2 separate regions of the Homo sapiens genome follow, and region 2 is linked to region 1. A link means that fine-mapping ties the variant in region 1 to the expression of a gene that starts in the linked region. Tissue or cell type: whole blood. Region 1 holds a variant in brackets; the other region holds the start of a gene. All regions are shown on one strand. Distances are from middle to middle.

Region 1 (2,682 bases):
AAATCTCAATATTTAACAACCTTAACCAAAATTGAAACTTCACTTCATTCTTTCAGTTACTAATATGCTGTTACTACAATCATTTGGTTGATAAGTTCTTTTAAAATTTTTTTTGAGACAGGGTCTTGCCCTGTCACCCAGGCTGGAGTGCCGTAGTGTGATCACGGCTCACTGTAGCCTTGATCTACTGGGCTCAAGTAATCCTTTCGACTCAGCCTCCCAAGTATGAGACTACGGACTCACACCACCACGCTCGACTAATTTTTTAATTTCTTGCAAAGACTGGGTCTCACTATGTTGCCCAGGCTCGTCTCAAACTCCTAGGCTCAAGCAATCCTCTTGCCTTGGCATCCTAAAGTGCTGGGATTACAACAGGCGTGAGCCACCATTTCCGATCTAGTAAGTTAGTTCTTAAAAATGGGGTTTCTTTGGAGAAGGAAACATATCTATTTTTGATCTAAATAATTAATGTGCTCTTCAAGTGTTTATAAACCTAGACACTCAAGTTTGCATAAAGTAAGGCACTGAACATTTACTCTCTCATGACTTTTCTGATGAATCTTTCCATTTGGAAAGAGTTTCTTTAAAGTGGGCACTATAAAAAATAAAATTACTCAATGCTTACATTGCTTTTATAACTTGTACTTCAATGCTTTCACCGAGGCCACTGGTATGGGAGAATTAATTACTTAAGAGTGGAATTCCCCTTTGGTTTTGGACTTACCTCTATGATTAAATTCACAAGGACACAACAAAAATGATTTACCAGGGCTACTTCAGGCAGCTCTATGCCTTGGTGCTAATTTTGATACCCAAGTTGGAAACCTAATATAACCCTAACCTGGGCATCATATGTCTGTGTGCTGAACTCTGTCTTAGGGGTGCATGATCTTCATCATGCAGAAAGTTACAAATTCATTTTGCATTTTAAATCAAGCTGTTCTCTCATTTTCCATCATGTATTAATACATTTCCACTAAGATTTTGTAAGAAAACAGATCATTTGAATATGATTCACAAAGTCTGACTATTGCTGTGCAGACAGGATTTTTCCACTTGAGTTGAATTTTTTTTTTTTTTTTTTTAGGTAAGGTCTCACTCTGTTGCCCAGGCTGGAATGCAGTGGCATGATCACGGCTCACAGCAGTCTTGACCTTCTGGGCTCAAGTGATCCTCCTGCCTCAGCCTCCCAGGAGTAGATGGGACTACATGTGCACACCACCACACCCAGTTAATTTTTAAATTTTTTTGTAGAGACAAGGATTCACTATGCTGCCTAGGCTGGTTTCAAACTCCTGTGCTCAAGTGAGCCTCCTGCCTCGGCTTCCCAAAGTGCTGGGATTACACTGTGAGCCACTGAGCCTGGCCTATAATCTACTTTTAATTTAGTTAATTTAGTGTGTAGTCACGTGTGCTTGCAGTAG[A/G]CATATGTAATACTAGGCTGCCAAATCACAGACTTCCTCAAAAACCTTAAGTCTTCTCATGCCACTCTGAGCGTCAAGGTACCCAAAGGAAGAAGAAAATACGTGCATGGGATATACCTAACTTATTTATTGGTTCCTATGACTTGAGTCATGCCTTTCTTTTCTTTACATATTCAGTCTGAATTGGGTATCCTCCTTTAATAAAGTGCTATACCCAGAAAACACACAAAATTTAAACCACCAAACACAATACTAGGTTGTCATTAAGGCTCTGCAAATCAAATACACAAATTAGATGTCCATTTCTCCTTTGAAAGACTGGAAGCAACTGGTCACCACTCCTCCTCCACCCCTCTTTTAACCTGAGGGTAGTTTGAGAAAACTTCTACCTTATTATACTAACATTTCCAAAGAGGGAGAAAAATTACAGCCTTCTAATTCAACTCACAGGACTTTGCAGGATCTGAGTAACTCGTTTCCTCTGCTCCATCATGTTGAAGTCTTGTCGTAGATCAGGAGACATGTTCCTCTCCCTAATGTATTCTGGGTCATTTTCATTGATGCGGTCAAAATATCTCTCTTTGTGAGGCATGCTGGGAGGAGGAGGAGTGGTAATCACGCCTTGGCTGGCATCTGAGCTCATGTTTTAAGTCTGTGGATTACTCTTGTTATCTGCATTAATAAACACAAAGAAGGACATCCATGATAAATTCATTAAATTCAAAATTTACATGGGTCAAGCAGAACTTTTACATTTTGCCCTCAGAGTTAACAGGTGCACTTTAAAAAGTAGCTTCTCAAAAATATTAGAACAATTTTTTATTCATATAAAAAGATCTTAGATTATAATGCTCGATTTGTAATTGATATTTTCAGAGCTAACAGAAACTCATGGTTCAATTAAATTACGTTAATGTCATCAACTGCCTTTTTTTTTTTTTTTTTTTGAGATGGAGTCTCACTGTGTCACCCAGGCTGGAGTGCAGTGACGTGATCTTGGCTCAATGCAACCTCCACCTCCTGGGTTCAAGAGATTCTCCTGCCTCAGCCTCCCGAGTAGTTGGGACTACAGGCGCGTGCCACCATGCCCAGCTAATTTTTGTATTTTTTTAAGTAGAGATGGGGTTTCACCATATTGACCATGCTGGTCTGGAACTACTGATCTCATGGTCTGCCCACCTCGGCCTCCCAAAGCATTGGGATTATAGGCATGAGCCACTGTGCCCAGCTGGGCTGAAGTGATCCTCCTGCCTTGGCC
Region 2 (2,682 bases), 94 kb after region 1:
CTACTTGCAATTAAATCTCTGCAACAAAAAAGTTCACCTGAAGCCGTTCTTGCCATTTTAAAAGAGGCCCAGATTATGCTACCTGTCTGTGGTCTTGCCTAAGCTATAATAGCCTACCTCCAAAGAGGCTGGACGTGCCCCAAACACCAGCACACCAGACCTGCTGCCAACTTCGCTTGTCACCCCTAGCAGGAAGCTCAACCTAACATGTATACGTTTGTAGGGGCGGTGTGTTTGTGTGTGTCTGTGTTGGGGGGTGGGGAAGCGGATTATAGGAGAAAGGTGACTGAACACTTTCAACTTGTAACAAAAAAAATTTTTTTTAAATGAGGAGAAAAACAACTAAAACCAACATTCGCTCCCTTTCCTCCACCTTTTCTAAGCGCAGGAACCTCTCACTCCCCTGGAGCGCACCTTCAGGGCTTAAGGTCCCCGGGGTCACCTAAGCTTCAGCCAGTAACTGATTTTGGTACTCCCCGCCTTCCTAGGGAAAACCAGCAGACGCGCGAAGCGTCGGGCCCACCCGGCGGCGCCGCAGGCCGTGCACCGCCACCCCCGGACCCTCCCCCGCAGGTACGCTCCCCTCTGGCCTGGCCGTGGTCCCCACTCCCGCCCCGGAAAAGGGTTCACCTGAGGCCGCAGGGACAGCCAATGAGAAGTCCCCTTGGCCCCGCCAGCCGCCGCTCCCTACCCCCGCGCGACCCCCAGTAGCGTCCCCAGTGCTAGCCCCCGCGCGGGTGCCCGCGTCCCGGCCCGGAAGAGAGGCGGGACGACGGCGCGTCCTCTCCCCGCAAGATTACCTCGCAGCGCGTAGCCGGCTTTGTGTTTCCCCTCCCTCCTTCTCGGCAGCCGCCCGGGCTGCAGCAGCCGCCGGATCCGCCGCTGCGGCCGCCTCTTAAGCGCCGCAGAGCCCCAGAGGGTAGGGCGGGAGAAGGGGAGGGGGCTTGAGGAGGGAGGGACCTGTACGCCGAGCCCTGTGCAGCAGGAAGCGGCGACACCTGGGATGCCGACGCCTCTGGCGCTTGCTCTGTGTTTTAAAAAATCTAATTTAAACCCCTCTTCTTTCCCTCCCGCCCCTCACACTGGCGACCGTTACGGGCTGGCGGCTCGCGCTCTGGCGGGACTAGCCGAGCGCCCCTCGAGCGTCCCTTGGTCCCGCCCCCTAACGCCCCGCCCCTAGGTCCCCAAGCGCCCCCCCCGGTCACGCCCCCAAGGTCCGCCCCTCGCAGCCCCCTACGCCTCTGGCCCCGCCTCTTGGGCTCCGAAGCCTCCCGGCCCCGCCTCCTCAAGACCTCGCCTCTGGCAGCCCCGAGCTCTCTCTGGCCCCGCCCCGAGCGCCCCTCGGGAGTCCTGGTCCCGCCCCCGCAGCCCCCTCCGCGCCCTCAAGCTCTAAGTCCGTGAAGCCGCAGCGGTGGGGGCCTGCAGGCCCGGCAGCCGGGAGGGCCTGGTTCGGGGCGGCTGCCTGGCGCCTTTTCAACGTCCTCTTCTGACTGTGCAGCTCGAATCCGCGGCGTCCCCGGAGGGCCAGAGGGGGAAACGACCCCGATAGAAACCCGACCGCGAAGGGGAGGAGGGGCGCCTCGGAAATGTCTCCCGCCCTAAATGAGCGAGCCCCCTACTCCTACTCCCGAGGCTGAGCCGCCGCTTTGAGTCAGCCTCGGCCGCCCACGCTGGCTGCTGGGGCTGTAGGAGGCCACTGCAAAGGTTCAACCTCCGCACGCCCCCCGTGGGGCCTGGACTTTGCTCTCAGCACAGCTGCCTTCGCGGGCGCCTAGTCCCCACAACCCCTGCTTCACCTCCACATAGGGGGAGGACAGGGGCTCTCGCTTCTGCTTCATTTGGACCCCTCGAGAGTCTTCACTCCCGCTTTGGCTCCCGGCCTCTGAACCTTATGAGAGCTCACTTCTTTGAGGCGAAAAGTCGAGGCATCGCCAAGAACCTTCAAAATGAATGCGGGGCCGGGCAAACTTTGCAACACGCAATTGCAGGGCTGTGGATCCATCCACAGGTGACACCGGGCCTCCCACCCCCCTCGCCCAGACATGTTTCTCATCCCAACCTATTCTTGAAATAGACCTCCCAGCGGTGCACACTTTTCTCTGCCACCCACGACTTCCACGTCCCTCCTGCACCAGTACACTTGCAAGCACACCCCTCCGAGCGCCATTCTAATGATTCATGGTCCCTTGGGCCAACCCCACCCTAACACACACAACAAACTTCGTTCCCCACCCTTATCCCCCTTCGTTTCCAAGGCACTGGCGACAATCCACTTCATTTCCTTTCCTCATCTGCAGACTCGTCCCCCTCAAATACCTCACGCCATCCGCCTCATCTTCATCCCCCCCCTCCTCCCTAAAAATGTGCTAATTAAAATGTAGTTTCCTCTTCCCACATATGAAGTGTGGAAAATGAATCTTGTCTTGACACAAACTGTGATGCATTTATCGTTTTCTCTCTCCACTGGACTAAGGCTGTAGAAATTTTAGTCTACCACCATCTCCCATTTGCTCAAAAAATCCAACCATGCCTTATTATTTTTAAATACTCTTAACGAATCGTGGGGAAGGCTGCCTAGTTTGAGGAAGAAAATTGTTTAGAAAATGCTCAGCCTGACATTTTATTTGGTATTTAAAAATATCTGCAGTATTTGAGAGAGATATTGGGAGTGGCTGGATATTT

Evidence for each region. PIP is the estimated chance that this variant, and not a neighbour inherited with it, causes the effect.
Region 2: it holds the start of ADD3, and the variant in region 1 is fine-mapped to the expression of ADD3 in whole blood (INTERVAL, PIP above 0.99).

Annotation. Positions count from the first base shown.
Region 1 is chr10:110,100,039-110,102,720 of GRCh38, reverse strand. It overlaps ADD3 (adducin 3), which reads right to left. Exons shown (of 15, transcript NM_016824.5): 2 at 1,873-2,096. The coding sequence starts at 2,067. Among named protein-coding and RNA genes, the nearest start is that of ADD3-AS1, 93 kb to the right of the region's middle. The variant A/G (reference allele first, on the strand shown) is at 1,425.
Region 2 is chr10:110,006,418-110,009,099 of GRCh38, reverse strand. It overlaps ADD3 (adducin 3), which reads right to left and starts at 1,116. Exons shown (of 15, transcript NM_016824.5): 1 at 801-1,116. It overlaps ADD3-AS1 (ADD3 antisense RNA 1), which reads left to right and starts at 719. Exons shown (of 5, transcript NR_038943.1): 1 at 719-919. RefSeq lists silencers at 384-793, 1,104-1,533 and enhancers at 1,362-1,915, 1,916-2,471.